Regions from separate parts of the Homo sapiens genome. Here region 2 is linked to region 1. The links come from fine-mapping of genetic effects on gene expression. A gene starts in region 1. The other region holds a variant in brackets. All regions are shown on one strand. Distances are from middle to middle. Region 1 holds the start of C8orf90 (chromosome 8 open reading frame 90). Region 2 holds the start of LOC124900270 (small nucleolar RNA SNORD5).

The links. PIP is the estimated chance that this variant, and not a neighbour inherited with it, causes the effect.
Region 2: its variant is fine-mapped to the expression of C8orf90 in caudate (GTEx, PIP above 0.99). The same link has a PIP of 0.9 or more in nucleus accumbens and putamen.

What each region holds. Positions count from the first base shown.
Region 1 is chr8:141,512,537-141,517,898 of GRCh38, forward strand. C8orf90 (chromosome 8 open reading frame 90) reads left to right here and starts at 2,135. Exons shown (of 2, transcript NM_001395960.1): 1 at 2,135-2,239. The coding sequence starts at 2,161. It overlaps LOC105375791 (a long non-coding RNA gene), which reads right to left and starts at 1,679. Exons shown (of 3, transcript XR_928727.1): 1 at 1,620-1,679; 2 at 1,322-1,372; 3 at 73-1,013. RefSeq lists silencers at 1,733-2,027, 4,113-4,407, 4,150-4,350.
Region 2 is chr8:141,444,560-141,449,921 of GRCh38, forward strand. LOC105375789 (a long non-coding RNA gene) reads left to right here. Exons shown (of 3, transcript XR_928722.3): 1 at 1-2,554. LOC124900270 (small nucleolar RNA SNORD5) reads left to right here and starts at 2,916; the gene lies at 2,916-2,990. It also overlaps MROH5. The variant G/C (reference allele first, on the strand shown) is at 2,324.

The sequences.
Region 1 (5,362 bases):
CCCCATGGAGCAGAGCTGCCCTCGAAGCCTGCAGTGGCTGGACTGTTGCAGGAGGGAGACAAATGTTCTGTCTTGTTTTAGCCACTGTATTTGGGGGTGCTTTGTTGCAACAGCTTAGATGTCTCCCTGACTGATACAGCTTGGTTTAGAGGCCACTAGCCAGCTGAGGCTTGGTCCCCAGGAGGTGCTCAGTGGCGGTCTGCAGAATGAGCATGTCAGGATGAACTGTTTCTTCCTCTTGTAGTCACACAATGATATTGATAGCTGAGCTGCCATTCAGGACCATCATTCGGCCGGAGCCCACCAGGCTGAGCTGAAGTTGACCTGCGCCTGCCTTGAGAATTGGTGTCGGGGGGCCACCTGGCCGGAGCACAGGAAGGTGGAAAACACATGCTGGCCATGTGAATACAGGACCACACTCACCACGGCTGATTCTGAGGTCCGAGAGCTGGGTGTGCTCCTGCCTACAGGTGCCTGGAGGGCTGGGCTTCAGCCTCTGCTGGGTCTCCTGGGCTGCACCCCAGCCTTGCTGGAGGTGGGGGAGGGCATGGAGTGTGGCTTGTCTGGGGAGAAGGGTTCCAGCTCACCTGCTGGGGCTGAGCAGGCCTTTCTTTAAGTCTGGCCCAGAGGATATGGCCCAGGCCTGTCCTGAGGGGTTCTCAGGGGGGTGGGAAGACAGAATGGGTACAGGGTTTTGCCATGACAACCCTGGCCTTCCCTGCCTCCCGCATGCCCACCTTCCTAAGTCTGAGGCTGGCACTGACCTAGGAATCTCAGCGGAGGGAGCTGGAGCCTGGGCTGCTCAGAGGGTGTGGCCCCGAGGGGCAGGGCCCTGGACATGGGACCATGTGCAGCCTGAGGTCATCACCAGGACACATGGGAGCCCATGGAAGGCAATGGAGGGACCATATCCAAACAGATGACTTCTGATGGGGTGCCAGCCAGGCCTGGGAGGCTCTCAGGTACAGAGCAGGCCAGGTGGGCTTCCTGAAGGAGGTGATATGAGCCAGAACCTGAAGGGGGAGCATGAGTTTGCATTGCAGAGGAGAGTGGGAAGGGCACCCTCTCAAGGCAACTGCACAGAGATGTGGAGGTGCAAAAATACAGAGACCAGGAGAGGGGAGGGGCCCCTGCTCCCCAGTCAAGCCCCGTCCTGTCCTGCGTCACAGCCCTGCTGTATTAGAGGCTGTGGTAACAGAGAGCCTGGCATGAGTGACACTCAAACACCAGGGGCATTGACTGCTCAATCACATCCCAGTCTGTGGCTGGGGTTCTCCTTGTGAAGAGCCAGGCCCCAGCTCAGGCCCCTGGGAGCACTTACCTTTCTTTCCCTGAGGCCATCTCTGGCTGCCAGGCTCCTTACAAGCCACACCTGCTGGGGATACAGCAGCCCACGGCTGTTTGGGCAGGCGGGGTAGCTCTGAGGCCATCTCCGGTAAAACTGTGCTGGGATGCGTCTTCCCAGGCTTTGTTCCCTTCTCTGTCTCATGTCCCCACCCCTACCAGCACTTGATCCCACTTTGGGGGAACTGATATCCCCATGAGCTCTTTGTGGCTGAGGCAAGGTCTGACCTGCTTCATAGGGACTACTGGAGTTGCTGAAGATGGGGACTGCTGACCTGGGCTCTGAAGACTTCGGGAATGCCTGTGGGAGCCCCGTGGTCTGGAGGGACAGGCCAGCTGAGGCTGGATCAAGGCCTCGGCTGCCCTGAGAGCACTCACAGGCTGCGGCTGTGGACACCAGGCTGACCCGAGGTGAGTCAGGAGGAAGAGTGCTGGTGGGGACAGGCTGGCGGTCTCTGGGTGCCAGGTTCTCATGGTCTCTGAGCAGGGCAGGTGAGCAGATGTGACTGGGGATTGATCTCGGAGGGTTGCTGGGTGCAATGGGAAGGGTTAAGGATGGGAGGCTGGCCCAGAGGGTGGCCCTGCAGGGTCCAGGCGAGGGGCAGGGTGCTGGGTGAGGGGCTGCAGTGATGCCCACAGAGAGTTTAGTGCGCAAGAGGCCACTGAGCCCACAGGTCCCCACTCAGCCTCCCCCACAGCCCCAGCCCACTCCTGAGTGGAGGCCCTTTAAACGCAAGGTTCTGTCCTCCCCTGGGAGGCCCCTCCCCGTCTCCTGGGCAGCCTAGTAAACAGAAGCCTGTCTCCCGGGCTGCTGGCATGGCCTCCTCTTGTCCTGGGACCCCCAGCCCAGCAGGTCTGCCCCCTCCTTCTGTAGCCACTCCAGGCGAGACACTTGGTGAGGGAGGGGAATGGACGGGAAGGGGGACGGGGCACCTGGGGCTCTGAGAATGTGGGAGCAGGAAGCGGCCCTCTGACCCATCTTCCAGAAGAAGATGCTCTGCCAAGGTCATGAAGGAGAGTGGCAGTGGGGCTGGGCCAGGATGGGGGCATGCGGGCATCAAAGCCTCCCTGTAAAGGTCCTTCTCCTCCCTACGCTCCCCAATGCTCTGATGCTCTGAAGTCCCCAGGGAAGGGGTTGGCTCTCTTCCTGAAGCCTTTGGATCTATGGACCTGGAGGTGTGCAGGGTCCTTCTCACTCTTTAGGGCCCCTTCCGGATCATTCTCCTGCCCTTGCCTCTTCTAAAACTCAGCTCTGGATCTCAGAGGCAGTGGGAGGGGCAGCCAGCCATCCATTCACTCACCCATCTATCCACCCATCCACCCACCCATTCACCCACCCACCCATCCATCCATCCACCCAACCATCCATGCATCCATCCATCCATCCATCCATCCATCCATCCATCCATCCATCCATCCATCCATCCATCCATCCATCCATCCATCCATCCATCCATCCACCCATCCACCCACTCCTCCACCCACTCATCTGCCCACCCATCCGTGCACCCTGCTCATGGTCAATGCCTTCACTCCTAAAGACCCTGGCCCCTGCCCTGCCCTCTCCCTAGCTCTCCTGTCATCCTATTGGTGATTTCTCTCAGCCCCTCGGACTCCTGTAAGGATTTTGTCCTCTCACCCAGCCACCCACCCGACAAACTGTACCCAAACTGCAGTCCCCTTGTCCCCACCGCACTCTGGGGATTCTTGCCCCAGCTCCTGCCCTCGAGGGCCAGCCCCAGCACTCCTTTAGTGAGGTGGAAGCCCACAGTGTCTTCCACCTGTCTGGCCTCCTCCACCCCTCCTCACATCTTTGCCATGGCCTCTGCCCCCTCGCTGGCCCCTCTCCTGTTTTCTTGTACTAGTCTGGCAGCTCCAACTCCCTGCTACCCTTGCCTGTGCCCTTGCAGTGGGCTGCAGCTGAGTGAACTCCACCTTGCTAATGCCTGCACTTGGCTTCAGCAGCAAGGAGGCCGGCTCCGCTGCCCTCCCTGGTCTGCCCAGCCTCTCCTCACCTAGCAACCACCTCGCACCTTCTCTCCCTCTAAGCCCCCATCGTCTCTCTCCTCACACTGTGCTGCTGGCCTTGCACCCTCCTTCCCTGAGAAGCTGAAGGCATTGGAAGAGGACTTTGCTGGTGCCCACCCACTGTACTTGTGGCATTGGGCGCTGTCCACCCCGGCCTGCTCCTGTGAATGCCCCATCCCTCCTCCCAGCCAAAGGCAGCATTCAGCTTCTCCCATTCCATCCCCCAACTCACGCTGTCACTCCAGCAACTCTTCACCCTCTTTCTCCTGCATCATGATACCGCTCTTTCCCAGGTCGTTCCCACTGGCATGAAAGCATGCTGCGATTTATCCTGTCTCTTGACCCCACTTCCCTTCCGTCTCCTGCCCTACTTCTCTGCTCCACATTCAGAGCCGAACCTCAGGAAGGTCATTTGTCTTTGCTGCCTCCACGTTCTCCCCTCTCCTTTGCTCTTGAACCCACTCTCACCGGGTTTTAATTTCCAGTGCTTCACTAAAGCAGCTCTAGCAAAAGTCATCAATGACCTCTGCGCTGGTAAGTCCGAGGTCACTTGGACTCATTTGATGTGATGCGCCGGCAGCACACGGCTCAGGTCCCTGCTGCCACACTTCCCACGCTCCCATCACTGCCCGCTCCCTCTTGGTGCCCTCACTGGCTCCTCATCTCCTTGACCTGGTCAGGAGGGAGGACCCGAAGCTCTCTGCTTGCGCTTCTGCCCTTTCTAACCCAACTCCCTCAGTGATTCATCTAGTTTTGTGGCTTAAACATCATCTCCCCAGTGTCTATCTCCAGCCTCGACCCCTCTACAAGCAGAGCAGTCCAGGCTCTTGTGTGAGCGGATCTTCTCCAGCCTCTGGGCTCCACTCTTATCCCCAGCATGGCGCTGTCCACGGTGCTGATTTAGGAAAGTACTTCCCATTGATCAAACAGGCTGGTCAATGTCATCTCATCTGCAACTGCAGCAGAACAGGGTTGGTTGGCTCCATTTTCAGAGGCTCATGGAAGGTGAAAGACTAGCCCAGGCCCTGACAGGTGGAAGGACCCCCACGTCTGTGCTCCTCATGGCTGTAGTCAATGGCTCAAACAGAGCCTGCCTGCCACACAGTAGGTGCTCAGTGAATATTTGTGCAGAGGGAAGAGACTGTTAATCAAAAGGCCCTTGAGCCGGGGGCGTGGCATAGTGGAAAGTGATTGCCCAGCCCAGGGCTTCAGCTTGGCATCTGTGTATGACTTCTCTGGGTCTGTATCCTCACCAGTAAAACAGACTGAATATTGTTACCCCTCCCAAGGGTGTTGGGAGAAGGATCTGACAATTCATGGTCATATTCATCCATTCCCACTTCCTAGCCTCCCAGTGTGGCCATCCCCAGACAGCTGCCTGGTCTGGCTCCTGTGTCCACCTGACTACATTCTTTCCTGGACTGTGTGCCCAAGTGAGGTCCCATGGCTGCTTTGCTCACTTCAGTATCCCTACAGCTAAGCACATTTGCTGAATGAAAGAAAGAAAGAAGGAATGTAGGGGTCTCTCCTGAATGGAGGACCTAGATTTGGGCAGGGTGTGGACCATGGGCCAGCAACGTGGGTGCCTTCTGGGGACCACGGATAGGCTGAAGGGTGGCATGACTGAACCAAAACCAAACTCCTCTTCCACCTCCGCTCCCTCCTGGGGCCGCACCTCCCTCTGGATTCCAGGGTCAGCTGTGTCCAGGCTGCGAGCCAGGCTGTTCCCACAGGCTCCTCCCTGTCTCTGTCTACAAGGCCTGGCGATCTGGCCCTGCAGCCTCTCCCCAGGTGGCGTTTTCCCATCCTCATGTTCATCTTGTCCTCCCCTGGATCTGACCTTGAAGCTGGGCCCCCAAAGTCCATTCTCTGCACAGCGGCCGGATCAACTTTCAACTGAGAGTGACTGCTTCACCTCCTGCCCCAAGCTGGCCACTGTCTTCAGGGAGAACCTCAACATCCTAAGCTCGCTCAGTCCCCACGTGGTCAC
Region 2 (5,362 bases), 68 kb before region 1:
CAGCACCTGTTGCAGTCCTGCCCAGGGAAGGGTGCCCTGCTCAACCCCACTCGCTGCTTCCTGGTCCCAGAGGCCTGTCCATCTAAGCAGGACATGAGAACTTCAGAGGCCCAGGGCTGGCCCCATCAGGCCTCAAGACTCCCCTGCTGCCCCATGGTGTCCTGTGCCGCCCCCACCGTTTTGGGCATGCAGAGAGAGTGGCTACTCAGCACTGCTCATCCAGTTGTCCTTCTGGGCCCCTGTCCCCACCTTGACAGTGCCACAGCAGCCTGGCAGGGACCTCAGACCGTGAGCCACCGGGATACACCTGGGTGTCACTCTGCTCTCAGGCCTCCCTTTCTCCCTGGCTCCGTGGTGGTGCTGGGTGGCATGGCTGCTGGTTTGGCAACCGGAGCCTGGGCCCCTTCGCGGTGGTCGAAGAGGCCTGGGCCCATGCCGCTCCCTGGAGGGCGTGGGAGCCAGGCCTGGCCAGTCAGAGCCGCACAGGCCCCTGTGGCCAAGGTGATTGGTTCAGGATTGGGTATGTGAGCAAAGCTAGGCCAATCAGAGCCCAGGACTGTGCCCGTGGTGAGAGTTTTTTCTCTTGGGGCTGCGGGAGCTGCCGGGGCCACCTCCAGGGCTCCAGGAGAACCTGCCCGGAGCGGCCTGAGCAGAAACCACCCGTGGCCCCGCGCGAGGCAGAAGTCCCTGCTATATGGGGAGCCTGAGAGAGACAGACAGACGTCCCAGCTGTATGGGGAGCCCGAGAGAGAGACACGTCCTTGCCGGTGGGGGAACCCACGAGAGACAGATGTCTCAGCTGTATGAGGAGCCCCCAGTGAGACAGACGTCCCAGCTGTATGAGGAGCCCGAGAGAGACAGACAGACGTCCCAGCTGTATGGGGAGCCCGAGAGAGACAGACAGACGTCCCAGCTGTATGAGGAGCCCGAGAGAGACAGACGTCCCAGCTGTATGAGGAGCCCGAGAGAGACAGACGTCCCAGCTGTATGAGGAGCCCGAGAGAGACAGACAGACGTCCCAGCTGTATGAGGAGCCCGAAAGAGACAGACAGACGTCCCAGCTGTATGAGGAGCCCGAGAGAGACAGACGTCCCAGCTGTATGAGGAGCCCGAGAGAGACAGACGTCCCAGCTGTATGAGGAGCCCGAGAGAGACAGACGTCCCAGCTGTATGAGGAGCCCGAGAGAGACAGACAGACGTCCCAGCTGTATGAGGAGCCCGAAAGAGACAGACAGACGTCCCAGCTGTATGAGGAGCCCGAGAGAGACAGACGTCCCAGCTGTATGGGGAGCCCGAGAGAGATAGACAGACGTCCCAGCTGTATGGGGAGCCCAAGAGAGATAGACAGACGTCCCAGCTGTATGGGGAGCCCAAGAGAGATAGACAGACGTCCCAGCTGTATGAGGAGCCCGAGACAGACAGATGTCCCAGCTGTATGAGGGGCCTGAGAGAGACAGACGTCCTTGCTGGTGGGGGAACCCGCGAGAGACAGATGTCTCAGCCGCATGGGGAGGTCCCAGTGAGACAGACAGACATTCCCGCTGTATGGGGAGCCCCCAGTGAGACAGACAGACATTCCCGCTGTATGGGGAGCCCCCAGTGAGACAGACAGACATTCCCGCTGTATGGGGAGCCCCCAGTGAGACAGACAGACGTCCTTGCTGTATGGGGAGCCCCCAGTGAGACAGACAGACGTCCTTGCTGTATGGGGAGCCCGCGAGAGACAGACAGATGTCTCTGGCTCTTCGGGACCTTCCAGTCTATGGGTGAGGGCAGTAAAGCAGGTAAAAGGCGCAGATCACAGATGGTAGCTGATGGCGGGGCTGCGGCGAGAATAAAGCAGCAGAGGGTGGGAGGCGCCGAAGGGGCTGCTATTTTGGAGGGTGGTGGGGGAGGCCTCAGTGAGGTGCGGGTGAGCAGAGCCTGCAGAGACAGGATGGCTGGGGGAAGAACATTCCAGCAGGGGGAGGAGCAGACGGGGTGAGGCTTTCTCCCAACCCTCCCACGTTCCGGGAGGAGAAGGTTTTATTAGCTTATTAGGAAAGATTCATGCATTTTGCATGGTTGAACTGAATAAAAAAGGAACTTCGTGCACATTTGAATTCGGAGGCAAGATGAGAAGAAGTGGCATTTTTTTTAAGTGACTTGCCTTGGGGAGAGCTGTTAAAACTGACAAATTGCGTGACGCACATCATAATACAAACAAATGAAAAGAGTTGGCCCCAGCGGTTTTTAGACTTGCTTATTGGATTTTTGGAAATATGACCTGGTGCAGAGGGAAGATGAAGGCAGGCAGCCCTACTGAGGCCAGAATACGGTGGGC[G/C]GGGGAGCGGGCAACTGGCCGTGATGTCAGCCTGAGCATGTGCTGAGGACCAATGAGATGCCCAAGAGGGCATGGAAAGGCATCTGCCCCATGGGTGAGCCCAGTTCGCCTCTGCATGGACATGCTGTGTGGCCCAGGGGAAGCCTCTGACCCTCTCTGAGCCTCAGTTGCCTCATCTGTAGAGCAGGGACAACGACATTCATCTCGAGTCCTCGCAGGAAACCCACTGGGGTAAGATGTGGCTCACTGCATGGGTGCTTTTGGTAACTGCTGTCCCCTTGAGGTCGCTGTATGGCAGTGACACTAAGTATCTCTACTGCCAAGCACCGTCAGGTGACGGGTAAGTGGGACGAACACCTGTCTGCAGGTGCTGCCCACAGCCCCTGTGGCCCTGGCCATGGATGGGGCTCAGGTTCATGACTGTTGTGGGTTGAACTGTGTCCCCCCGAAAAGAGATATATTGAAGTCAACCAACGGTACCTGTGACTGTGACCTTATTTGGAAAGAAGGTCTTTGCAGATGTTATCAAGTTGAGGTCGTTAGGGTGGGGCCCTAACCCAGTGATTGGTATCCTTATAAGAAGGGGAAATTTATTCAGATGCTGAATTTAACTGTTCAACTGCTGAACCACTCAACAGACATGAACGAAAGCTTAATTCTGACAGAGCTGGAAAAAAAAAGGAGGAAATTTAAACACTGGCACACAAGGGAGAATGTCAGGTGACCACAGGGGCAGAGATGAGCGTGGTGCAGCCTCAGGCCCAGGAACACCCAGCGTGGCCATGAGACACTGGGAACCGGAAGCAGTGAGGAAGGCCCCCGCAGGTTTCAGGGGAGCACGCCCTGGTGACACCTTGGTTTTAGACTTCTGGCCTCCAGCACTGGGAGATGTTGCTTTGAGTCCGTGGGGTATGCGTCTTTGTTACTGTGCTCTATGAGGCTAACACAGTCTTTGCCCTCGGATGCCTGCGGAACCCTATGTGTGTCTGGCCAGGCCAGGAGGCCTGGGAGGCTCTAGTCTTACCTTTGGGGGCTGGGCACGGCCGCCTCCTGGGCCTGCTGCTTGGGCTAGGGCTCGCTGGGCAGGTTCAGCTCCAAGACATAGTGCATCTGGGTGAGGAGGGCCAGGAAGAGCTTGGGGTAGCCCTCCTGCACGGCCTGCTTGAACTCCCGGGCAAACTGCAGCTCGTGCAGCATGTTCATGGCCTGTCGGGGGCAGGCGTGGAGTGAGGCTCCCAGGCCCTGGGTCCCGGGACCAGGGGTTCTGACCTACTGTCCCACAAAAGCCACGTCCAAGCATGCTCGTCCCTCCCTGCTGCAAGCTCTCCAGGACCAAGTCCAAGTGTCCACATGCTGTCCCTCCCTGTGGGGCCTGACCCCGTGCCTCTGCAGACTCAGCCTGGCCGTCTCTTGCACCCTCTGGACCCACCGCTTGGGTCTCGCTGCTGCTGGATGGCCTAGTGGTCCCCAGCCTCCCCTAGCTGTCCACCTGGATGCTGTCCGCTCTACACTCCTGCAGACCTCCACCTTGACCCAGGGCCTCCCTCAGACCGCACACTGGATGCCACCATCTGCCCTCTGCACTTTGCTCCTGTCTAAGGGGTGAGCTGCTGGCGTCTGGGCCCTCTGCTCTACTGCCTTGAAGGCAAGGTCCTGTGCTGTGTGGTCTCACGGTACCCTCAGCTCTGTGGCTGGCACACAGCAGGGCCTGATGCCTGGGAGTTGGGGAACCCATGGCCCTGGAAGGCAGAGTCAGCTGATAGCAGCCCCCAACCCCAAAGGCCGAATGTGCCTGCCGGAGCCTTCAGTCCAGAATGTTCTCAGGGTGGGGCCAGCACTGAGCAGTGACAACTGGGGGGAGGGCAGGAACTGGCGGTGTGGTGGGGTGCAGGGAAGGCTCCCCTGCTACCCCTGGGTGGGTCTCACCCATGCTGCTGTGTGGTCCTCTGGTAGGGGGGCAGCATCAGCCCAGGGCCGACCGGGGCGGGGCTGTTGGGGATGGCCAGCTGATAAATCCCCAGGCCGAGGGGGTGCTCTCCCACCGGCTGCCATTGTTAAGCCCTCATCACACCCCTGCTGCAGGCAGCAGCTTGTCTGGGGGGCTCTGGGTGGTAGGGGAGCTGCTGTGAGCTCTGGGCCACTGCTGGGGTGCCTTTGGGGCAGGGACTCAGCCTGGAAAGCTCTAAACAGGAACACAGCTGTGGCCTCATCAGGGTCCAGGTAAGGGGGACAGGTGTGGCCATGCCAGGAGGGGAGCTCCTGGCTCCTGGGAGTGTGGAAGCAGTGCTGGGCTTATGAGGAAAACCAGGGGCTTCCTACAGGGGGGTGGCGGCTGCAGAGGGCAGCCTCTAAGATTCCTCTAGAATCTATGACTCCCCAGAACCCAAGCATGGGGAGGGTTCTCAACTCTCTCCACACCCTTCCCTATACCTGAAGCCCCTCTCTGAGGCCGCCCCACAGTGAGTGAGTGAGTTCCCTTGCCAGCCCAGGGGACTGACACGACTGTCCTGATTCACAGACAGGAGCTCACAGCCCTCGGCTAGGAGGTGGGAGCTGGGCCTGTGTGGTCAGCCCTGGGCGGCTTTCCTCCAGGCTGGGGCTGGACTGGGTGTCTGCAGCCTGGATATGGGGTGCCCCCCTACAGCCCGGCACAGAGTGAGTGCCCGAGGTGCTGCCAGTATTTGATGGGGCGGTGGCAGAGACTCACAGCCAGCAAACGCAGGTAGGTCTTCTCCTTGGGGCAGGGGCTGCTGTCGCTGGCACCGGTGGGCAGGGGTCGCTCCTGCAGACAGGCCAGCAGTGTGGTCAGCACCAGGTGGCTCGTGGGCTGCCCAGCCCCCAGGGCCCTCCACAGCTGGAAGGTGTGGCTGTGGGCAGAGAGGGCATGTGAGGGCAGTGCTGCCACCGAGGCCTGGCTGGGCTCAGCCACATGAGCAGGCCACCATCACCAGGGCCTGGGTGCCTGGAACAGCAAACTTAGGCTGGGCCCTGAGCTGGACCCTAGTGGGATGGGGCTCAGGGCAGATACGAGCATTGCAG